Linked DNA regions of Homo sapiens. The protein of the gene in region 7 purifies or fractionates together with the protein of the main gene of each other region. This does not show direct contact. Each region holds a gene or a part of one and is shown on either strand. Other genes may lie near its edges.

Region 1 (3,500 bases), on a different chromosome or scaffold from region 7:
ACTGACTAGGCCAGGAGACAAGGGGACGAGGGGAGTGTCAACCTTCACAGCCACTCACCTCTCCCAAGCCCAGGTGTCACTGTCCTCCACTCTCCTGAGGGAAGGCTGGCTACACAGCAGCTCCAAGGGTGGAACCCAGTCTATACCCCCAAGGCCCTTGCTGGAGAACCCCAGCACCCACAGGATGTGGGACCAGTATGGTGAAGAGGGGGGCCACTGGAATTCCCAGGGGCCAGTGCCAGGACCCTCCCTGAGAGCCAGAGTCTCAGCCCTGCGGTATGTGAAGGAACCTCTCTGAGGCTCAGTTTCCTCATCTGCAAAGCCGGCTGGTTAGGAACACTAAAGGATATATAAGGTCCCTTCTCAATCTAAGCCCTGGTATGCTGGGGAGAGGGTATCATCTGTGTCTGGCTATTGCCCATTTGTAATTCCCTCCTTGGGCAAATATAACCAGCTCTGTCATCAATAGGTATAAGCCTGTCTTACTGGAAACACCTTGTTTCACCCACAACACGCCATTTTATGGCACAAATGTTTAAACTCCATTTTAAAAGCACTAAAACAAGCACCCTTTTTGGGCTAAATGATAAACCACAGCGCTAGGGTGGCAGGAACACGCTGTGTTCACAGGACGGCCTTGGGCAGCCCCTCCTCAGGGTACTGCATACACTCCTGTTATGGACGAGCACCCATAGGGTCTCCTTGGGAAGGGCTGAGTGTCCCAGCTGCTCTGCACCCAGAAGCCAGGGCTCTGGAGCTCCAGCTCTTCCCAAGCCTACCGCCTCCCGCCCGCTCCACAAAGTCTGCAGAGCACCCACTGTGTGCCAGGCCCTCTGCTCAGAGCACAGGCTGTGCCGGGTGGGTGTGGACCTGCCCTCGTGGTGTGCTGAGGCTGCTGACCTGCCCTGGAGTGGGGAGGGGTTCCTCAGGAAGCCAATGGCCCCAGGACAAGGGACCACTATCCAGGGCCAGGCATAGACCACCTGCCTGGAGGCTGGCTGCTCAAGCACTTGCCACCTGCAGAACTTGCCCCACAAAAGGCATGTTCTTATGTCCCCCGTCCCCTGGATACCCTCACTGATAACATGTTGACCAGCTGTCTCTCAGATAAGTGGCAGAGACACCAGGCCTCCCACGGTGAACCCTGCTGTGACCCAGCCTGCCTGTGGGGCCCAAGTGACTACTGTGGGTCCTAGATGAAAGCACAATGGGGACACTGCTGGGAACTGCTGCCTGCCAGCTCTAGAAAGACAGGGCAGGTATCCCTGGTAGCAGAGGCTTTGTGGAAATGAAGCTGTAGCTGGGCTGGTGTGACTGCCTCCTCCTTGTCCCCCAGTTCCCTGTGCTGCTGGGAGAGTTGTGCTCACCCTCATACTTGGCCCCAGCCTGAGCCTTGAGCCTGCACAGCAGGTCCATCACAGGTGCAAAACAGACCCGCCACAGGGCTGGGAATGCTGACAGCTCCGTCGGGAAATGGGCAGTGAGCTCCCTGTGGGTTTCCACATGAGAACATTTGATGCTTTACAACTAGACCTTTTAATCTTGCCTTCTGAAGGATCCCACACCATTTGGTGGCCAGCAGAGTCCATTAGCTGATCCGCAAGGGCAGAGGTTGGGCAACAAGTGCCCACCTACCCCCTCAGGTGCCTCCAGTGGGGCCGAGTGAAGACCCAGGCTCTGCTGGTCACAGCCACCTGTGTCTGTCCCTCAGTGTGGGCTGGTAGGTGCCAGCTTCTCCACTTTGCCTTTCCCTCCTAGGGCAGCAGAGTGACTGTCTTTGCTGACTGACCCTTGTGTGAATGTACTAAAGACGAGGGGCAGAGCCTCTGCCATGGCTCTGGCTAAGTGGGAGGCCCGTGGTGGGTCCTGTGACACATGGCCTCTCAGGAGCTGTCCTTGTGGACTTGAGGGCTGGGGGCCCGCCAGCGCCAGCTGTGTGCCTGAGCCTCAGTGCCTCGATCTGTGACAAAAATAACAGGCGCTGCTGCCCCACAGGATCATTCAGGGGACAGGTGCGCCAGAAAAACCCCCTTGTGTTGCTGGGCTGTGTTCAGGCCTCCTGTGCTGCCTGAGGAAGCCCCAGCTGGGTGTTGGGCTTGGGGGCACTGGGGTGCCTGACACACCTGCAGGACTTGGCCCTAGTCAGGGCAAGGGACTGCCAATTCCTTCGGACGAGGGTGGGAACCGTGGCCATGGAGGGGCGTGGCTCCCCATGTGGCTCGCTGCCATGCTCCACAGACACCCGGAAATCTGCCTTCCCTGCTCTGAGGTGCTGCCCTGCACTCACTGCAGCCCTCACACCCGGGAGCCCAGAGACACTGACGTTCTCCTTGGCAACGTGCTGACGCAGAAGCCAGCGGGTGGGCCGGGGGGCTGTGGCTCCTTCGCCAGGCGTGGGGGTGGGGAGGCACTGCCAGCATCAGGGAAGATGAGGCCTTGGAAGCTGAGCACGGAAGGAGGGCTATGGAGGAGCCGTGTCCAGAGCCCTGGCACTGGGCCCCAAGGTTCATTCGGCTTTTGTGAAAACGAGCATGGCCTGTTCTTGGCTGCCTTGCCTTTGACAGGGCCCAGGGAGGACAGTTCAGCACGTTCCAAAAGGAGAGAGCAGAGTGGCAGCCCTGTGCCAGCCCGTGCCAGCACTGGCTCTGGCCCTGGCCCGGCTGGAGACGGGCTGTCCTCACTGCCGGCACCACTCTGGGGGCCAGCTCACCTCCGGGGCCAGCCCAGCCTGCGGGAGGAATCGCGGGAGGGGATTGTCTTTCCTCTGCAGCCTGTTTGTTTTCCATCTCCAGATATTACTGGTAGAGCATGAAAGGTCAGAATCATTTGGAATCCAGTGAATTTCCAGCCTCGCTTGGGTTTCTCATCAAGAATTTCCTTTTCTGGTGAACAACCACTTCCCCAGGCCTGCAGAAACCAGGGTGATGGTGGTGGGTGTGCCAGCCTGGCTGCCAGCCCCTCCCTTTAGAAAGTGCCTTGAATGCCTGGAACCTCACAGGGATCCCTGAGACCAGGCCAGTGGCTGCTGTCCCTGCCCATGGCTGCCCACCATGGCTCTCCCCAGGGACAGGCCTGGGAGAGGGAAAGCTAGAGATGTGAGGCCCCACAGGGGCCACCCAGCCCATCTAGGGCCTGCCCCGAGGAGCTCACTCACACATCACTAGATGGAGGAGTAAGCAGGTGCCGGGCTAGGTCAGAAAAGGCCTCCCAGGAGGCGCCACTTGGGATGAGACCTGGAGGATAAGGGCAGGGGTACGAGAGGCAGGGATCAGGATCATTACAAGCTTAAGGCTGGACAGAGCAGTACTGCTGGAGCAAAACAAGCTGACCACGGCTAGAGCAGAAGGAGAGGAGAGAGAGGCAGCAAGGTGGCAGGCACAGGCCAGTAAGAGCCAAGAGGGCTGCAGGCAGGCAAAGGCCTAGCCTTGGGCCCATCTGTGAAGACACCTGGGTCATCTCCTCACTGACAAGTTCAGAAAGCAAACATGACAGCCAAAGCC
Region 2 (3,500 bases), about 49 Mb from region 7:
CTGAGAGGCGGAGACCAGACGCCAGGTGCTCAGAGGAGGAAGGGTGGGGATGCAGGCAGCCCCACCCACGGGAGGGGCCAGGCATCAGGGAAGGACCAGAGCAAAAGTCAGTCTGATAAGCAGGTGGGGAACCCCAGCAACCTCTGAGCCCTGCCACCACCAGGACTCTCCGCGTGCCTGGGGTCTGTCCCTGGGCCCCTGGGGGATGGGAGGTCCTTCCTCCCAGGTTTCCCAGGCCTGTTTCCAGGGCTTGTTGAGAATGGTAGCTCTGGCAGGGAACAACTGGAATTCAGAGGGGAGAACAGCATCCATTGAGACAGCGGGATCCAAGGCCTAGTCGGGGTTAGGGAGTGGGCTAGCGAGGAGCCCTTGGTTCCAAGAGCAGGAGGGGAAGGGAGAGAGAGGACACAGGAAGGCAGGGCCGGACCCTCCAGGAGGCTGCTGAGATATCCCCGGCCTCCACTGCAGCATCCTCTCAGCAACCCCGCCTACCCTCAAACTCTGTCCTGACACTGTTCTCTCCACCCCCAAGGCCTGTGGACCCTTGCCCCCCTCCACAGTGCAGAGGACAGGCTCCAACCAGGCCCTAGGCCCGCCGAGCACAGGGCCATTGCCCCAGCCTCCAAAGCCCCAGGGCGGACCCTGCCTCTCCTGCCCCGCCCTCCCAACCACTGTGCACTGGTCAGCAAGTTCTGTCTGCTCCAGCTCCAAGACGCCGCCTTGCACCTGTGTCCTGTACTTGTGTCCCCACCCAACCCACTCCCCAGGCCCAGGCCTCTCCCTGACGAGCAGGCCCTGGCTCCCCTTGCCCGGAGCCGCAGCAGGCAGCTGTCTGGCGGCCCCACCTGCACCGGGTCCAGGGGCCCCCAGGCTGGCCCCCGTGTGGTGTGCCCAGCAGGGCTGGGTGCATGGGATGCTCCAGGGAGCATGTGGGTGGCAGAGCGGGGCCGAAGGGTGACCATCTGGGGTTATGAGTGAGGAAAGGACGAGAGAACCAGCAGGGATTGACGGACTTGGGTGGGTAAGCGGCCTTCTGAGGGGATGGGCAGATGGAAGGGCAGCGTGGGGCACAGGTGAGGCCAGCGCACAGGGAGGACCACACCCCTGTGGCCCCTCCTGCTCTTCCCTGCCCCTGTGACTTCCTCCTAAGCTCTAGGGACTCTCAGAGGTGAGTGCTGGGAATCTACACCCCATTGCCCAACCTCTACCTTGCACATGCCCCTAACCCCCCAGCCTGGTGGTGGCTAAATCCAATGCCCAGCAGCCCTGAGGGCCCCACCTCCCACATCACAGGTAATACTGGCACCCAGCCAGCAACACCCGGGCCTTCCCATCACCAGAGCACCCAGCCTCGGTGCTGCCCGGGGACCACAGGCCCTTCCCTGCCCACTGAGGGTCTCAGGGCTCACTCCCTAGCTGCCCCCATCCTCCTCCCCAGCCACAGCCCTCCACACAACTCACTCCAAGACAGGGGCCAGCACACCACAGTGGCAGCCACAGCTGGCCTGAGAAGGTCTAAGAAAGGCCTTTACATTTTTCAATGGTTGGAAGAAATGAAAAGAATGCACCAAGATGGGCGAAAATTCAGAGTACCCTTAAAAAATTAAATAACAACTTAAAAGTCTTAAAAAAGACACGTGAAAACTACATAAAATTCAAATTTCGGAGACCTTGGTGAGTGTCGGAGGGGTGCAGCTGCTTCCCAGCAACCGCCAGCGGACGGGGCCAGGCAGCTAGGATGGGAAGGCGTGGCCAGCAACGCAGAGGACATTAGCTCTGGCCTTGCACAAAGTCTGACGACCCCCGAGCCAGGATGTCCCACCCTCAGGCCTCTTACCTGAGGCTCCCACTCTCCTCCGAGCTACTGCCAATGTCCCTCCTCCGTCCACCCCAACCCCGCCACCCACCTGCCTGCCTGCCTGCCTCGAGCTGACCAGCCCCTCTCTGCCGCCTACACTCCCTCCTGTTGTCCCTGGCTCTGAGCACTCCCACGCCACACCGGCTTCCTTCCCTCCACTTCACTCTCTCTCTGCGTTCACGCCCATCTACTGGCTCGTGGGTCCCTACTCTGGAGTCCCAGGCAGGGTCGCACACACCCCGTCACACCCATGTCTCCCCGTGGGTGCTGAAAGGTGATCCCAAATGAGACCCGTCCAAACAGAAGGCCTAGACTTCCCCAAACAAGTCCAGTCCCTCGAGCCGGACCCCACGAGGGCCACAGGCCCTTCCTCCTGTCTGCACCGGCCTGGCTGACCCACCTCCACCTCCAGGGCAGTGCTCTAGCAGCCCCTCCCCATCCCACGTATCCCCACTAACTGAGGCACCTCCACTCTTCCTGGAGAGCAGAAGAGCCTGGCAGACATTCTCCAGCCTCCCTCCCAGTCCTGAGCAGCCGGACTAGCCTCTTCACGGCTGTGAGCCCCCGACCAACACAGACCACACTTCCTGGAACAGTCCGAGACCCACACACCCATCACATAACTGGAAATGTTTCGTGGGACAGATCTTGGCTTGACGATGTGGGATGCACTATTTCAAGTTTTGTTTTCGGTGCTGGTCACCACCCACCAGACTGAGTCCTCCACCTCCAGAAGGCACTGTCAAGGCTCCTAACACAGGCCCAGATGCCTGGTGCAACCTGCAGGCCCTGGCTCTGGCCTTCCTTCTGTGCCTCTTCCAGGCCCCCCTCTGCCTCTCCGATGTTCCCCTCATCTCAGCGCAGAGAGAAGGACAGCACCCTCGGGGGTCACTGTGCGTGTCCCCTCAGAGCCCTGTCCCCAGCACTGATCACCCTCAGGCCCTGAGCCTATGGGGGAGCGGAATAAAAGTTCCCAATTCTAGGCCTGCCCTGGGGCACGAGGCAAGAGGCAGGAAGGGTCCCAGAGCTGCTGCATGGGAGGTGCTAAGGGAAAAAAAGGGCCCAAGTGAGACCAGAGCAAGGGGCCCAGGTGAGGAGAAGCAAAGGGGGATGCCGCGGTCCCTCCTGGCTGGGAGAGAAAGCAGTGGGCGGCCGGGTGCCGGGAGCCGCAGTAGGCGGAGGACAGACTCTAGGCCGTCAGGGGCCGCAGGGAGGGACTCACCCGTGGCGGTCTGTGCCAGCTTTTCCTTGGTCTTGAGCGCGTGCGCCCGCTCTTCCCGCAGCCGGTCCTCGTCGCGCAGCAGGGCCACCAGCTGCTTAGCTTTCTCACGCACGTTCACGCCCTGGTCCTTGCCGTCGCGGTCCACGTACTGGAAGTCCTTCAGCGTCTGCACGGCGTACATGTTCTCCTTGCACTGCTGCGACACGCGCTCCGAGCCGGTCTTGATGAGGTACTCCATCAGCGTCATGGCCTGCGAGCGGGCACGGGGATGCCCGGTCAGCACGCCGGGCACAAGGCGGGCCAGAGACTGCCTGCGACGCGGGCTCTGGGGCGGCCGACTGGGCGCAAGGCCCACAACCCACCTGTCGCCAGTGGGTGGACACACATCTGTCCCCACAGAATACGACACGGCCATGCAAA
Region 3 (3,500 bases), on a different chromosome or scaffold from region 7:
GTTTCCATGGGATCCTATTTCCATTTGAATTTCTAAGGGTGCTTCCGTTAACTATTCTAGAATTATGACATCAGGATGGATAATCTCAGGAGATACCTCAGTGACTCAAAAAACTACTTTCAAAGGGCTTATATTAGCCACATGTGCAGGATGATTTAAAGCATAACTGTTCCCTCATCCTTTGCTTAAATAATTTAAGTAGTTCTGAAAGGACTACAGCATTTAGGATTTAGTGTGTAGAGCTAAAAAAGAACGCAGACATCAAATTTATATCCTTTCAAATGTCAAAGTTCTAAAATCCTCCCCCTGAACTGAACATATATACACACTAAATCAGTACCAATTTTCACTTCCAAATTTCTCCTATAATTAAGGTTAAAAAATAAAACAAATCACACCCCTTAAAAAATTCTAAGGGCCTCTCAAATTTTAGTGCAATCTAAAACACTATAATTTTATAATGTCTACTGTCAAGTCTTCTGCATCAAGTTAAATGAATCTGTAGTCTTCATTTTCACAGCTTGTTGCAATGGGAACAAGTTGGGCCTGGCTAACTTGCTAAAAGTTATACAATAATAATTTTAACCTAGTGGAGTGTATGTTATTTGGTCTCATCTGTGGAAAACCATATAAGAAATTGGTAATGGTGAAGCCGGGCATGGTGGCTCATGCCTGTAATCCCAGCACTTTGGGAGGCCGAGGCAGGCGGATCACCTGAGGTCAGGAGTTCGAGACCAGCCTCAACATGGAGAATCCCCATCTCTACTAAAAATACAAAATTAGCCAGGCATGGTGGTGCATGCCGGTAATCCCAGCTACCAGGGAGGCTAAGGCAGGAGAATTGCTTGAACCTGGGAGGCAGAGGTTGCAGCGAGCTGAGATCGCGCCATTGCACTCCAGCCTGGGCAACAAGAGCGAAACTCCGTCTCAAAAAAAAAAAAGAAAGAAATTGGTAATGGTGATTGCCTTTAGGGACATCTTGATTACCAGAGAAAAAGAAGATTTACTCCCTCTTATACCTTTTAAATATTAAACCATGTAAAATTTGCAAATCTCTTAATGTATAAAGTAAATATATACAGATATATAGATTTTGTTTTGGTATGTCATCTGATGGGATCATATCCTAAAAACAGGTATCCCAAACTACAATATTTGGAAATTTCAAGTAATGAAAAGCCTTTATTCTGGGTTTCAAATATGGTCACCTAAACTAATTTGCTAAAGATATATATTTTAAAATTTCATATGGATACATAACCCCAAAGAATGTGTGTTAGTCTCTCATCTAGGATACTAAGTTTAGATTAATCAAGCAAAAATATAATAATGTTTTTTATCCCAAAGACCTATTAATAGCAATTCCAGAATTTTAAAATACATTTTAATTCTCTTAGCTTATCCAAGTAATGATAAATCAAATTTTGGGTATATAACCAATGTTTCAATTTAATTTTAAATCAAAATGTAACAAAACCAATAAAATCAAGTGAAATGAGACTTCTGTACAGTTAATCAGTAAAAGAAATAAGGAAAAACTTCAGGATAAAAATACCTAATTGTTGTTTGTTCATTTTTTATGTGCTGACTATAGATAACCTCTGGAAAAAGTCACCTAACTAAAAATCTCAGCTCATTACAATGTGATATATACTAAAGAATACTACTTAGTGTCTTTGGGTGAATGCTTCATATCGTATATAGATTGGGATTACTCTGTAAAATGAAGATTATAAGCTATTCAACTCAGGTATGTTTTACATACTTATTTGTCCCCCATTAATAATTACCTATGAAATGCATTAAGGTTTTTTTGCTGAATAATCTGGGTTTACATAAAAATATAATGCCATTTTAATTATTACATAGCAATGTTGTTATAATCTCAAGACTATTATAAACTTGTACTCAATTATTCCTTTGAGAAAGCAGCGGCTTAGACACTTCCTCACTGTAATACTGATCAATATCTTTTTAAAGTTACATAATCTTTTATAATATCTTTTTAAAGTTACATAATGTTTAATATGTAAAAATAAAGATAAAAAACAATTGTTTTTACATATTAAAAGCAATGGTGTGAATTTCTACTAGTAAAATTATTTTTGCGTCCAATTTTAATTTTGCTGTCCAATTTCAGCTTGATTATCAATGGTGCTATACTTCGTGGCAAAAACTGACTTATCAATAACAAAACACCTGTTCTGTAAAAGGTTTTGAATAATTTTTCCTTCAAAGTACAGTATTAAGTAAAGGAATTTTCAATTTAGCATATAGTTTCAATTGAGAAAACCTATACTTTAAAGAAAAAGGAAGAATGTGCTGCTTTCAAAAGAGCTTGAAGAGAGTTTCAACGATTCAAACTTTCTTCTAATGAAATGTCACAACAAAAAAGGTTTGTCTTTATACATGTAGGGGAGAAAACAATTAATAGGTTGTTTGATTAGAAACCTAAAACTTTGGCTGGGCACAGTGGCTCAGCCTTTTAATCCCAGCACTTTGGGAAGCTGAGGCGGAAACATGGCTTGAGCCCAGGAGTTCGAGACCAGCCTGGGCAACATAGCGAGATCTCATCTCCACAAATAATTTAAAAACCAGCTGGTCATGGTGGCCTGTACCTGTGGTCGCACCTACTTGGAAGGCTGAGGTGGGAGGATCATTTGAGCTTGGGTGGTTGAAGCTGCAGCGAGCCATGCTCGTGCCACTGCGTGCCAGCCCAGGCAACACGGTGAGACTGCAATTCAGAAAAAAAAAAAAAAAAGAAAGAAGAGAAGAGAGAGAAGAGAAGACAAGACAAGACAGACCTAAAACATCAAAGGTTCTCACTACCTCACTTTGACAAGTTTTTATCTTTTAATTGATGAAAAACATATATATTTATCATATAGAGCACGATGTTTTGAATTTTGACAATTTTATTTCCTTTTAATAGTTCCACTTTAAATGCTAGAGGGAAGAGTTAAATTAATATCTATTTTAAGGGATTATTTTATAAATGATCCTGAAATATGTGAATTTTTAGTTTTCTGTTTTTGAGACAGGGTCTCACTCTGTTGCCCAGGCTGGAGTACAGTGACCAATCATAACCTACTGCAACCTTGAACTCCTGGGCTCAAGCAATCCTCCTACCTTAGCCTTCCAAGTAGCTGGGACTACAGGCATATGCCACCACACTTGGCTAATTTTTTAAAATTTTTTGTAGAGACAAGGTCTACTGTGTTGCCCAGGCTGGTCTCCAATTCTTGGGCTCAATCCATTCCCCTGCCTCAGCCTCCCAAAGTGCTGGGATTACAGGAGTGAACCACCATGCCCAGCCTAAAATGACAACTATAAATTCTCGGAAGTTAATTATTTAGTTAATTCCTAGACCTTCCTAGCTCACTGAGCCTCCTCACAGCCCCAATTCCAAGCCAGGAAATAAAATAAAATGCAGTCTATTAACTATTTGTTTTCAATAGTGAAAGTGAAGGCAAAAACTAAAACATAAATTAGATTTGGAG
Region 4 (3,500 bases), on a different chromosome or scaffold from region 7:
GGCAACATAGTGAGACCCCGTCTCTACAAAAAATCATTTGCTGGGCATGGTGGCACACTCTAGTCCCAGCTACTCGGGAAACTGAGGCAGGAGGACCCCTTGAGCCCAGGAGGTTGAGGCTGCAGTGAGCCGTGTTCACACCACTGTACTCCAGCCTGGGTGACAAAGTGAAAACCTGCCACTCAAAAAAAAAAAACTTTAAAAAAATTAATATGGAGATTTTCAACATGATTAATAAGAGATTGTAAATTAGATACTATCCATTTGGCAAAAAAATTAAGTTTGATAGCACCAATATTGGCAGCATGTGGGAAATCAGTACTCATTCATTACCAGTAGGAGTGAAACTGGTTTAACCTCCACAGAGAAATTTAGCAATCGCTATCAAAATCTTAAATGGATGTAAACTGTTATTCAACAACTATACTTCCACAATGTCAACAAAATTAAAAAAGGATTTAACCCCAGGACACATTATTAAATAAAAAAATACAAAGTTCAGAATAGTGAGTATAATATAATATACTACCGGCTGGGCGCAGTGGCTCACGCCTGTAATCCTAGCACTTTGGGAGGCCGAGGCGGGTGGATCACGAGGTCAGGAGGTCAAGACCAGCCTGGCCAAGATGGTGAAGCCCCGTCTCTACTAAAAAAAATACAAAAATTAGCCGGGCGTGGTGGTGGGCGCTTGTAATCCCAGCTACTCGGGAGGCTGAGGCAGAGAATTGCTTGAACCCAGGAGGCGGAGGCTGCAGTGAGCAGAGATCGCGCCATTGCACTCCAGCCTGGGCAACAAAAGCGAAACTCCGTCTCAAAAAAAAAAAAGAAACAATCGTTATCTATAGGGTGGGGAAGTAGGGGGCTACAGGCCAGATGAGAAAAACTCACTTTTCATTGGATACTCTTTTGTGCCTTCTGAATTTTGTACCATGTGCTGTACTAACATTCAAAAATAAATAAATGAGCTTATTCTTACTTACCTTCATGAGGCTTTCTGAGCAACCAAGTGACTTGAGAAATAAAGTAAGCCTAGTAAATTTTTCCCCTACTCAAATAGTTTCAAATTCTTTTTTGCTGCCAACTATCTTTAATAGAGATAATAACCAGTCATCTAAGCTGATTTTTCTTTTGGTCAAATCACCAATGTAGAACTGGCCAGTCCAGAAACAGCTCTACATGCTCAAACATAGGGGCTGGATCCTAACCCCTCAGGCCCTAGAACCAGGATGGGGAGGCCGCATTAAGCTGGATGCATGTCCTAAATCAAGAATCACTCACCCGGTCATAGGTGTCCCCCTCCAGTTCTCCCCATTTCCTGCCATCCCATGAGGTAACTCGAACTTGATTTCCATCCCTGATCTCTTCAGGCACATAGCTGTGAAGGATCTTCTGTAGTCTGGCTATTCGGGACGGGGAGAGATCATTGGCAGCAAGATTGCCTATGGAAATAAAGATACTTCAGAGGCCATGACCCAATGAAACATTCCACCAGCAATGGCGCTGATGGAGTCAGACCAATTCTCAGGTAGTCCCAGCCAATGCAAACCCCAGCATCAGGAACATTTATTATGTGCATGGCACAGCATCAGTCATTCTGAGTGGGGGTACAATGGCAAACACCTAAATGGGCCAGAAAGTATCAAAGTTATTTAAGTCAATGAATAAAGCAGACCAAGTAAGACTCCTTTCCTTTCTCCTTTCCTGTCCTCTCTCCCCTTTCTCCCCTTTCTTTCCCCTTTCCCCTTTTCCTTTCCCCATTACTTTCGCCTTTCTTCTCTCCTTTCCCTCTCCCCTTTCCTCCCTTTCCTTTCTCTCCTTTTCTTTCTCTCCCTCTCTTTCCTTTTGTTTTTTTTTTAAGACAGAGTCTCATTCTGTCGCCCAGGCTGGAGTTCAGTGGCACACTCTCAGCTCACTGCAACCTCCACCTCCTGGGTTCAAGTGATTATCATGCCTTAGCCTCCTGAGTAGCTGGGACTATGGGTGTGCACCACTATACCCGGCTAATTTTTGCATTTTTAGTAGAGACAGCATTTCACCATGTTGGCCAGGCTGGTCTTGAACTCCTGACCTCAGGTGATCCCGCCTGCCTTGGCCTCCCAAAGTGCTAGGATTACAGGTGTGAGCCACTGCACCCAGCCACATTCTTTTTTTTTTTTTTTAAAGACAGGGTCTCTGAGTCTGGGCATAGTGGCTCACGCCTCTCATCCCAGCACTTTGGGAGGACGCCAAAGTAGGTGGATTGCTTCAGCCCAGGAGTTCAAGACCAGCCTGGGCAACATAGCGATACCTCATTTCTACAAAAATAAAAATATATTTAAATAATTTTTTAAAAAGAGACTGGAAGGCCAGGCACGGTGGCTCACACCTGTAATCCCAGCACTTTGGGAGGACAAGGCAGGCGGATCACAAGGTCAGGAGATCGAGACCATCCTGGCTAACATGGTGAAACCCCGTCTCTACTAAAAATACAAAAAATTAGCCGGGCATGGGGGTGGGTACCTGTAGTCCCAGCTACTCGGGAGGCTGAGGCAGGGGAAAGGCGTGAACCCGGGAGGCAGAGCTTGCAGTGAGCCGAGATGGCGCCACTGCATTCCAGCCTGGGCGACAGAGCAAGGCTCCATCTCAAAAAAAAAAAAAAAAAAAAAAAGAGACTGGGTCTCACTATGTTGCCCAGGTAGGTCTTGAATTCCTGGCCTCAAGCAATTCTCCCACCTCAGCCTCCCAAAGTGCTGGGATGATGGGTGTGGGCCACCATGCCCAGCCAAGAATATTTATTTCTAAAAAAATATGCTCTCCCACTATTCTGGAAACCTATGGCTCTCTTCATCTTTGGTAGATACTACAGTTTATTTAGCCAAAATCATTCTCCTCTTCCTCCTTATTAATAGAACCCCAATTTTTTGGAAGGGGAAAATTGCCCCAAAAGACTACATTTCTCAACCTTTCTTTAGTTTCGCTCTTGTTGCCCAGGCTAGAGTGCAATGGCGCGATCTCGGCTTACCATAACCTCCGCCTCCCGGGTTCAAGCGATTCTCCTGCCTCAGCCTCCCGAGTAGCTGGGATTACAGGCATGCGCCACCACGCCGGCAAATTTTGTATTTTTAGTAGAGACGGGGTTTCTCCATGTTGGTCAGGCTGGTCTTGAACTCCCGACCTCAGGTGATCTGCCTGCGTCGGCCTCCCAAAGTGCTGGGATTACAGGTGTGAGCCACCACACCCGGCTAAGCCTTTCTTTTACAACTAAGTATGACTATATGACTAACTTTTGGTCATAGTTGTAGGCATAAGTATTGGATAGGAATTCTGGGAAGATATTTTTAAAAGGCTGACATAATTGGGAGATGAAATGAGTCTCTTTTGCCCAATCCTTTCCTCTTGACTCAAATATGGATGTGATGGCTGGACTTCCAGCAGTCATTCTGGACCATGAGGCCTTGCCTTAGAGCTTTACTAGTTACATATCTTCTCCCTCTTAAAGGGAGGGAGGCTAAGGCTGACAC
Region 5 (3,500 bases), on a different chromosome or scaffold from region 7:
ACATGAAGGTACCTGGGCTGCCCTCCCGGATTTCCGATTCTTTAGGTCTGGCTGGGGCCCAGGAATTTGCATCCTTGACACGTGTTTGTGCTGCAGATGGTGGTCCTGGGGAGCCCGGATTGAAGACCACAGTTCCAGTGTATGCTGGGGGTCCTAGCCCACCTCATGCATAGCTGGCCACAGTGCCAAGGGGGCCTAGAGGGGAGCCATGGGTCCACGTCCGAGTCGGTGCTGGGCAGTGTCCTTGGTGGGCGTCTCTGGCTCTGTCTGTGGTGGTCTGTGTGTGTGAGGAAGCAGGAGTGTCTAAAGGCCCCAGCAGTGTGGCCCTCACTGGACACACTGGGATTCCACCTGGCTCAAACCCTAACCCAGTCCTCAGCCTTCCACCAGCAACAGGTTAGGGAGAGATGGACAGGGTCACTCTGCAGCCAAGACTTAGACAGTGGCAGTCAGCATTGCGGGCGGCCCAGTTTCTTTCAGGTCTGGCCCACTCTCTTCCAACCTGCTGGTGAGGCTGTTGGCTTCCCCGTGTGTCCCGGCTGTGGGATGGGCCGGTCCCCTCACCTACCTGAGCCTCAGTTTCCTCATCTGCAAAATAGGTGTGCTCATGGCACCTGAACTCAGAGGATGTGAGAAGTCAACAGGGTAACTCATGTGCAGTGTGGGGCCTGATATGTGGCGTGGGGTATGTGGTCAGTAAATGCCAGTGATCGTAATTAATGCTTATTTGTTCATTTTCTTTCTTTCTTTCTTTCTTTCTTTCTTTCTTTCTTTCTTTCTTTCTTTCTTTCTTTTTTTTTTTTTTTGGAGACAGGGTCTGGCTGTGTTGCCCTGACTGGAGTGCAATGGTGCAATCATGGCTCACTTAAACCTTGACCTCCTGGGTCCAAGCAATCCTCCTGCCTCAGCCTCCCCAGTAGCTGGGACCATGGGTGTACAACACCACACCTGGCTAATTAAAAACATTTTTTTTGTAGAGTTAGGGTCTTGCCCTTTTGCCTGGGCTGGTCTCAAACTCTTGGCCTCAAGCAATCCTCCTGCCTTGGCTTCCCAAAGTTCTGGGATCACAGGCCTGAGCCACCGCACCCGGCCTTAATATATATCATTTTGACCATACAATACAGCTTCATCTTGAACTGGGCTTATGTGTATTTTGTGGGCAAATTTCTTCTCTCCACAGAGGAATCTTGCTGACTCTGGTCTTTGTGCCTGGCACACAGAAGGTGACATCTATGACTGCTGTGCCTGAATCCCAGCAGGGGCCTGCTCTTACGTGTAGCGGCCTCCGCAGCCCCACTTGTGAATTGTGAAGCTGCCCTGGCCTGTTCATTAAGTGCTCACTGTGTGCCAGGCATGGAGACAGAGGAGTGGACCAGAGAGATGGAATCCCTGGCCTCAGGAGGAAAGCAGCCGGGTTATCCGAAAACTCCAGCATGGGGGTGCAAGCCATTTGTGGTGGTCTGAGCTGCATCCCCTTAAAGGCTTCTGAGGCCACTGCAGGCCCAAGCCAGCCAGGCCCAAGAGGCACAACCTCTGCCCTCCTCCCTTCTCCTTCTCCTCCCCATGATGTTTGCGGTCCTTCCCAGGGACCCTCGGTCTGGGACTCAGGGGTGGCCACCTCCTCCCTGTTGCCTTTGGTCAGCCCAGGCTCTGCCTTGACCTTGCCTGCCAACCTTGACTCTCCTCTGCCTTTTCCCTAATGCCCAGAATGGTGCCGGCACACAGGAGCAGGTGGAGGGCAGGAGCCCACGGCTGACGCCTCTGTGACCCCGAGCAGAGGACGGGTCCCTGGCTCCAGGTTGGGGTCAGCAGTTGGGTTCTTGGGTGTCTCTGGTTGTGGACTGTCCTGGGGCCCATGAGGGCCCCTTCCTCTAGGGTGAGGAATATTCTCTGATCATCACTCCCCACCCAACTCTGCTCAACCAGGGTGGGCCAAGCTGCTGCCTTCAGGAGGCAGTCACTGGAGACCATCTTGGGACAAAGCTGGGGGTTGTGTGATGGCTGCGTGGGGACATGGAGGGCCCACAGCCAGGCACAGGGTGAGCCACAAGGAGAGGAAAGGACCAAAGCAAGGGAGGGGCTTCGGCCGTCCCTGTACATCCCGTGTGCGTGGGCATGAACCAAGGAGGCCTTTCCTTTCTCTGACAGTGGAGCAGAGCAGCAGCAGGAGAGACTGAGGTGGACTCTCGGCATCGGGATGGGCATCTGGGCAAGAAACATCACCTGTGTTATTAGGAGAGGACTCGATCCCCTGCGGTGCGGGGCTGGGTCCTCACTCGGCCTTGGTGACCTTGGGGAAGTCCCTTGGCCTCTCTGAGCACCAGCTTGCTCATCCTTCAGACCTGCCTTCCAACTCCATGGATCTAAACAGGAGAAGCTTTGCAGTCCGGGGAGCGGGCCAGAAAGACAAAGGGGTTGTTTGGCAGGAGAGTCCCTGGGAGGGAAGGAGGGCTCAGGGGCGAGTTCTGCGGTTCTGGCCCCTTCCTTGGGCAAACCTCCTCTCACCGGCTTCACTTTCCGCCTCTGGAAAATGGGCAGTTTTGGAAGGCCTCAGTGTTGAGGAGGATTCGGGGCATATGAAGGGTTTAGCTTGGTGCCTGGTTCTGAGGGGAACCTTTATTTATTTATATTTTTATTTCTATAGAGATGGGATCTCGCTATGTTGGCCAGGCTAGTCTCGAACTCCTGGCCTCAAGTGATCTCCTCCCATCTCGGCCTCCTGAAGTGTTGGGATTACAGGCATGAGCTGCTGCGCCTGGCCATGAGGGGAACCTTTCAAAACTTTCCTGGCAGCAGCTGGTCCTTGGGGTGCAAGTCTTCCGCATCCAGGGCAGGTGGCCTGTGGCCACCCCCTTGTACAGAGAGGGAAGGGGCAGCTGGTGAATGGCAGGGACTCACCCAGGCCCCAGAGCCCAGCCTCCTCCTCACAGGCTCTTTTTGCCCTTTCTGCCTCCTTGGGCTCCAGGTTAAATGGGACCCAGCTTCTCCCTTCCCTACATCACCCCACAGAATTCTCCCATCACCCCGTGTCAGGGGAAAGCCCTTTTCCCCGGCAGAGGCCTTGGGATCGGACCCAGCTCCTGCTGCTCCCAAGGCCTGTCTTAAACCCCTTTGGGGCAAGGCATGGGCAGTGGAGGGGGGTGGTGTCCTGTCGAGTGGGCCGGGCCCATGTCACCCTCTGAGAGGCCACAGGAAGGAATTTGGACATTATTCGAGATCCGTAGGGAGCCGTGGAAGGGAGGTGATGGAGACACATTAGATTTGGGTTTAGAAAAATTGTTGTTGGCTGCAGTCCCGGAATGGACTGGCGGGGAAGAGGGGTGGTAATGAGACCGAAGGTGATCATGGTGATGAACTGGAGTATCGGTGGGGATGACATGAAAGACAGATTCCAGATATATTTAGGAGGAAGACTCAGTAGGACTTGGTTTCCCTCCCCTCCCCTCCCCTCCCCTCCCCTCCCCTCCCCTCCCCTCCCTTCTTTCCCCTCCCCTGCCCTC
Region 6 (3,500 bases), on a different chromosome or scaffold from region 7:
TAAAAACAGTCACCAAAATGAAAACAGCACTGTATTTGGGGAGTGGGGCTATAAGTGATTTTTTTCTATTACTGTGTAATTTTCAAAATTTACTTAAGGGGCATGGATGTTACTTTTAGAATTGAAAAAGTAAATATTGTAAAAATTCCTCATAGAGGATAATATAGTAATGGATGTGAAGGCATAGACATGACAGTGACAATGGTGATTATTTCTGCCTGAAGGGGAGGTTGAGAAAAGTTTCTCCGAGTAGATCAGGGATGTAACAAATGACGTGGTGTAACACAAAAGGAAGAATAAGAAATGTGGCAGAACTGGAGCATGCATGCCTCACCTTAAAGCATTCAAATCCAATTTTTTTTTTCCAAAATGCCATGCTAGACAAAACCTATTTGGGACCTACTCTGCAGAAGGCTTTGAAGGATGAATAAGAGTTCAGCACATATGTAAAGGAAAAGGAGAGGGCAATCCATGTAAAGGCAAGGAAGGATCATGATGGGCAAAAGCGTGACAGTATGCAACAGCCTGGTGTGTTGAGGAAATTTCTAGAAATATTTCTGGAACATGACATGAGAAACCAAGAGGAGCCCAGAAATGAAGCTTGACTAGACATGACAAGGACCGGATCACATATGGCCTTGGATCCATGCCCGCAAAGGCTCTCAGTTCACCCTGCAGGCCAGCATATCCGACTCTCCCACCACAGTCATAACCTCAAGAGCAGAGGAGAGTGGGAGTCTGAGGGAAAACTGCAAGATTTCTTCGAATGCTCATCTTTTACCTTCAACTTCAGCACAAATTTTGTATCTTATACCATAGTGCTACCTAGGATCCAAACTTTAAAAAGATGTCAAAGTTAAATGCTGCCCTTATCCTATGCATTCCAGGGAAATTCACACCCCCAAGAAGAGGAAGCATATTTGTAGCTCTGCTTATTTCCTTCAAATAGATTCCTGGAAGTAGAATTAATGAATGAAGGGATATTAACTTTTCAAAGGCTTGGCAGAGGCTGCCAAGTTGTTTACCAAAAAGGGTGCGTAGTCCTTTTTAACTAGACGACCACATTTAGATTTTATGAAGATCAATATTTGGCTAGATCTAGGGGCCACGACTCTTACAGTTCTGTCTTACCCTAGTATAGACACTTTCCTCTTTTTCAGAAAGTCATTTGACCGTGTACTTATGGCTAAAGTAAATCCTGCTTCTCATTCTTGCATTTATAACCTTTACTGAGCCAGTCTCACATTCATCATGGTGGTGGGCATGCGATGTATTCATCAGGGTTCATCCCCGGCTGCCAGCTCTCCTCCACTCTACACTCCCCTTGGTGACTTCCTCTACTCACATGGGTTTAGCTACAAATCAGATGTTCATTATTCCTAAGTGTGAACCCCTAGCCCTGGCTTTCCTTGCAAGTTCAGACCTACACAGAAGACGATCACAGCTGACGGGTCCACTGTTGATCTGGTCTCACCAGCTGGAATCACAGTATCTTCTTCCCTGTTTCTAATCCTGTGTGTCTGTTCACCACACCCTACCACATTTATCCCCCAGTGTTTCTGGAATTACTTCCTCCTTCTCCATAAAGTGACCATCCAAGCTCACTTTATTTCAAGCCCTCATCATCTGTTGCTGGACATCACCATGACCTCAGGCGATGCCAGGGTCTTCATGAGCATGGAACCAAATCAACATGGAAGAACAGGTCATGAGGAGCCAGGTCACCTCAGCCATGGAGCTCCCCACAGACTCCCACGCATGCCCACAACATCTCTAACAACAGCGATTACAGGAAACAGCAACTATTAACATTGCACAGCTCTTCTACAAAGAACTTTCACATGCATTCCCTTAGGCCTCAAAATCATACCTTACAGAAGAGAAAACTGCTTAAGACATTCTGTGACTGGTCAAACCTCACAGAACTACCCAAAGCCATGCCTGGCTTTCGCTCTGAGTATCCTAAGCCCAACCTGATGCCTCTTCAACGATACCACTCTTTCCACTTCAGATAATCTGACCTGTGCCAAGATGCCCAGGTGGATGCCTGTTTAAACTGATATACACCCTCACCCACCTTATTCTCATTTCTGCTGCCTGTAAGAACCCACCTGCCCCAAATACTTAAAGAGTAACAATTTCTGGTTGAGGCACTGAAAATTAAACATGGCTGTTTTGACTAATCCACAACTTCACTCAGTTGCTCTATAATAAGTAAGGACATGCTCCACTGTAACTATAATCAGGAATCATGATGTGAAAAATATTTCTTTTTAAAAAAATGTAGTTATATAAAAAGTCACAAGTCATTGTAAAAAAAATCTTTGGTTATATATTTGAGGAATTATTTTTATTAAAAATAATATGACATTAGATTTCTAGGATGGATTGTCTGTTTCTATGTCCAAAATGAATACCATGTTGCTAATGATAAGTGCGATATATACTCTATGTGCATGCGAATATACGTATTTGTGATTTAGAGTATGTGTATCAATCGGGGTGAGAAATCAGAAAGAAGTGAGACACAGGTTGGATTTCATAAAAATGAAGGCTATATGGAACATAGGAAAAGGAAGAGAAAAGCCTCCTGCTCACAGGTCAATAGGGATTGGAGTGTCCACAGCCTGTAGTAGATAGCATGGGTAAAGAGTCAGAGACACTTCCAAGACTGTTTTGTCTGACTCTAAGGAGGATGGTGTCACAGTTAATTTTATGTCCACTTGACTGAACTATGGTGACCAATTGTTTGGTAAAACTCTAGTCTAGATGTTGCTGTAAAGGTATTTTTTAAATGTGTGATTAACATTTACTATCAGTTGACTTTCGGTAAAGTGGATTCCTCCATTATTAGGTGGGTCTCATCTAATCAGGTGAAGGCTTTAAGAGCCAAGACTGAGATTTCCCAAAGGAAAAAGAATTCTGCCTCTGGACTGCAACACAGAAATTCTCCCTGGGTTTTCTCCCCTTCAAACTCAAAGACTGCAACACCAGTCCTTACCTGAATGTCCAGTCTGCTGGACTGCCCTGCAGATGTCAGACTTGTTGGCCCCCACTATCACATGAGCCAGTTCCTTAAAATAATCAATTTTCTCTCTTCCCACCAGGAGGTAGGGGAAAATAAGATAGCACAGGGCAAGTTGATGGAGGTCTCTAAATCTAAACCTGACTAGGCATGAAATAAAAGTTCGGTACAGGCTCCCAAATGACAGTGAGCCCCAAACAGAAACAAGACAACTAGGACTTCATCTGGTATCGATTCCAGGTCCTACGTGAGAGGCTGAAGTGTGGCAGGGAGGCTTTCAGCCATCACTGTTGCCCAGGTAAAGGAAATTTCCCCCATTGTGCTTTGAGGAGAGCTGCTACACACCAGGTAAGGGAGGTTGTATCTATAACTGATGGATTTATTTTCTACAAGTTACATAATAAACTTAATGAAATGCCTGTAACTAATGAGCTAATTAATGCTGGGAATCAGAAACCTACTGCTAAAAAATAGA
Region 7 (2,613 bases):
GTAATCCCAGCAATTTGGGGGGCCAAGGTGGGCAGATCACCTGAGGTCAGGAGTTCCAGACCAGCCTGGCCAACATGGCAAACCCCCAGCTCTACTAAAAATACAAAAATAAGCCAGGCGTGGTGACACTAGCCTGTAATCCCAGCTACTCGGGAGGCTGAGGCAGGAGAATCGCCTGAACCTGGGAGGCGGAGGTTGCAGTGAGCCGAGATCCCCCGACCGCACTCCAGCCTGGGCGACAGAGTGAGACTCCGTCAAAAAAAAAAAAAAAGAAGGAAGGGAGGAACGGAGGAAGGGAGGGAGGGAGGGAACAAAAAGGGAGAAAGAAAGGAAAGGATGGAAGGAAGAAAGAGAGAGAGAAAAAGACTGAGGAGATGAAGAGGAGGGGTGAGGTGGGAATGTAGGTTGATGTTGGCTTTGGGTCAGGGTTGCATGCGATTCTAGAACTGGCCGGGGAAGGAGCTGAAGAAGGAATGGGGATGGGATGGGGATGGGTTGGGGTTGGGTGGCTTGGGAGGTCCCGGTGGGGCTGCGCTTGGGGCAGGGATGGGGACGGAGACAGAGGCGAGCAGGGGCTCCTCCAGGGTCCTCCCTCCACCCAGGTCTACTCCTCCAAGACGAACTTCACCAACCTGCTGGGGGGGCTACAGAGCATGGTCCAGGAGGGCGGCTTCCGCTCCCTGTGGCGGGGCAACGGCATCAACGTGCTCAAGATTGCTCCTGAGTATGCCATCAAGTTCTCCGTATTCGAGCAGGTGGGGAATGAGGGGCCTGCTTCCCCCAGCTCAAGCCCAAACCCCTCCCATGCCCCCAAAACTCCAGGCCCTTGTTCAAGCACACACTCACCCTCCAGACCCCAGGCCTCTTCCCTGCGCGGGTTTTGTGTCGGAGGGTGGCTGACTTCTCTCTCACCCTCCTCTCTCCTCTCCCAGTGCAAGAATTACTTCTGTGGAATACAAGGGTCCCCGCCCTTCCAGGAGCGTCTCCTTGCTGGCTCCCTGGCTGTGGCCATCTCCCAGACCCTCATCAACCCCATGGAGGTAAGAGAGCATGTGCCCCGCAGGTGAGGAAACGCCGTGGAAACTAGTTACCCACGTTGCTGGGGCTACTTCCTCTTCCTCCTTTCTCCCCTCCTCCTTTCTCCTCCTTTTTTCTCACACTTCTCCCTCCTCCCCGTTCACCTCTTCCTCCTCTGTCTCCCCTCCTCCTTTCTCCCTCCTCCTCTTTCCTCCTCCTTTCTCCTTCCTCCTCTCCTCCTCCTCCTTTCTCCCTCCTCCTCCCCTCCTCTTTCCTCTCCTCCTCCCCTCCTTTCTTCCTCCTCCTTCCCTCCTCCTTTCTCCCTTCTCCTCCCCTCTTCCTTTCTCCCTTCTCCTCCCCTCTTCCTTTCCTTTCTCCCTCCTCCTTTCTCCCTCCTCTCCCTCTTCCCCCTTTACCTCTTTCTCCTCCTCTCCAATCTCCTCCTCCTTTCTATAAATTTATATATGAATATATTATATATAACACATATACATATATATAACATTTTCATAAATTTATATATGTATATATTATATACAACATATATATTATATATATAACATATATATATTATATATATATTATATATATAATATATATATTATATATATATATAACATATATATAATATATATATTATATATATATGTAACATATATATAATATATATATTATATATATATATAACATATATATAATATATATATTATATATATATATATAAATTTTCAGGCCAGACACCTTGGCTCATGCCTGTAATCCCAACACTTTGGGAGACTGAGCTGGGAGGACTGCTTGCTTGAGCCCAGGAGTTTGAGACCAGCCTGGGCAATATAGCAAGACCCCATCTTTACTGAAAACAAAAATCAGCCAGGTGTGGTGGCGCATGCCTGTAGTCCCAGCTACTCAGGAGGCTGAGGTGGGAGGAGCACTTGAGCCCAGAAGGTCGAAGCTGCAGTGAGCTATGATGGGACACAACTGCACTCCAGCCTGGGTGATAGAGGGAGACCCTGTCTCAAAAAAAATATATATATATATATGTTTTATATATAATATACACATATATTATATACCTTACTTATTATGTAAATATATAGTACATATAACATGTATATATTATATATAACTAAATAATTTAATGTATCTAATTATATAATTACATTTATTATATACTATGTAATATAAAAATATGTCTATGCATGTTATATATAATATATGCATAATGTATAATAATACATATATAATATGTATATATACTATATATATGTATACATATATATTTTCATTTCTCATCTGTGGACCGGAAACCCTCCTTTTTTTCTTTCTTTTTCTTTTTTTTTTTTTTGAGAGTCTCACTCTGTCACCCAGGCTGGAGTGCAGTGGCACGATCTTGACTCACTGCTCACTGCGACCTCCACCTTCTGGGTTCAAGCGATTCTCCTGCTGGGATTACAGCTGCCTGCCACCACACCCAGCTAATTTTTGTATTTTTAGTAGAGACAGGGTTTCGCCATGTTGCCCAGGATGGTCTCAAACTCCTGACCTCAAGTGTTCCACCCACCTTGGCCTCCCAAAGTGCTGGGATTACAGGCATGA

The links.
Region 1: the proteins of SLC25A41 (region 7) and GNAZ purify together in Homo sapiens (affinity purification with mass spectrometry; 3 studies listed by BioGRID and IntAct, with this or other methods). This does not show direct contact.
Region 2: the proteins of SLC25A41 (region 7) and EPN1 purify together in Homo sapiens (affinity purification with mass spectrometry; 3 studies listed by BioGRID and IntAct, with this or other methods). This does not show direct contact.
Region 3: the proteins of SLC25A41 (region 7) and FCHO2 purify together in Homo sapiens (affinity purification with mass spectrometry; 3 studies listed by BioGRID and IntAct, with this or other methods). This does not show direct contact.
Region 4: the proteins of SLC25A41 (region 7) and NSUN4 purify together in Homo sapiens (affinity purification with mass spectrometry; 3 studies listed by BioGRID and IntAct, with this or other methods). This does not show direct contact.
Region 5: the proteins of SLC25A41 (region 7) and NCS1 purify together in Homo sapiens (affinity purification with mass spectrometry; 3 studies listed by BioGRID and IntAct, with this or other methods). This does not show direct contact.
Region 6: the proteins of SLC25A41 (region 7) and RFTN1 purify together in Homo sapiens (affinity purification with mass spectrometry; 3 studies listed by BioGRID and IntAct, with this or other methods). This does not show direct contact.

The regions. Positions count from the first base shown.
Region 1 is NC_000022.11:23,098,019-23,101,518, reverse strand, and holds part of GNAZ (guanine nucleotide-binding protein G(z) subunit alpha), read right to left. Parts: intron 2,908-3,500; coding exon of another isoform or gene 2,707-2,907; exon of another isoform or gene 1-2,706. UniProt on the Homo sapiens protein: Guanine nucleotide-binding proteins (G proteins) are involved as modulators or transducers in various transmembrane signaling systems.
Region 2 is NC_000019.10:55,685,226-55,688,725, reverse strand, and holds part of EPN1 (epsin-1), read right to left. Parts: intron 3,331-3,500; coding exon 3,081-3,330; intron 1-3,080. UniProt on the Homo sapiens protein: Binds to membranes enriched in phosphatidylinositol 4,5-bisphosphate (PtdIns(4,5)P2). Modifies membrane curvature and facilitates the formation of clathrin-coated invaginations. Regulates receptor-mediated endocytosis.
Region 3 is NC_000005.10:72,959,041-72,962,540, reverse strand, and holds part of FCHO2 (F-BAR domain only protein 2), read right to left. Parts: intron 1-3,500. UniProt on the Homo sapiens protein: Functions in an early step of clathrin-mediated endocytosis. Has both a membrane binding/bending activity and the ability to recruit proteins essential to the formation of functional clathrin-coated pits.
Region 4 is NC_000001.11:46,350,807-46,354,306, reverse strand, and holds part of NSUN4 (5-cytosine rRNA methyltransferase NSUN4), read right to left. Parts: intron 1,440-3,500; coding exon 1,279-1,439; intron 1-1,278. UniProt on the Homo sapiens protein: Mitochondrial RNA cytosine C(5)-methyltransferase that methylates cytosine to 5-methylcytosine (m5C) in various RNAs, such as rRNAs, mRNAs and some long non-coding RNAs (lncRNAs).
Region 5 is NC_000009.12:130,175,404-130,178,903, forward strand, and holds part of NCS1 (neuronal calcium sensor 1), read left to right. Parts: intron 1-3,500. UniProt on the Homo sapiens protein: Neuronal calcium sensor, regulator of G protein-coupled receptor phosphorylation in a calcium dependent manner. Directly regulates GRK1 (RHOK), but not GRK2 to GRK5. Can substitute for calmodulin. Stimulates PI4KB kinase activity.
Region 6 is NC_000003.12:16,381,200-16,384,699, forward strand, and holds part of RFTN1 (raftlin), read right to left. Parts: intron 1-3,500. UniProt on the Homo sapiens protein: Involved in protein trafficking via association with clathrin and AP2 complex.
Region 7 is NC_000019.10:6,428,151-6,430,763, reverse strand, and holds part of SLC25A41 (mitochondrial carrier protein SCaMC-3L), read left to right. Parts: intron 1-145; exon of another isoform or gene 146-243; intron 244-602; coding exon 603-755; intron 756-932; coding exon 933-1,040; intron 1,041-2,613. UniProt on the Homo sapiens protein: Calcium-independent ATP-Mg/Pi exchanger that catalyzes the electroneutral exchange of Mg-ATP or free ADP against an hydrogenphosphate and participates in the net transport of adenine nucleotides across the mitochondria inner membrane.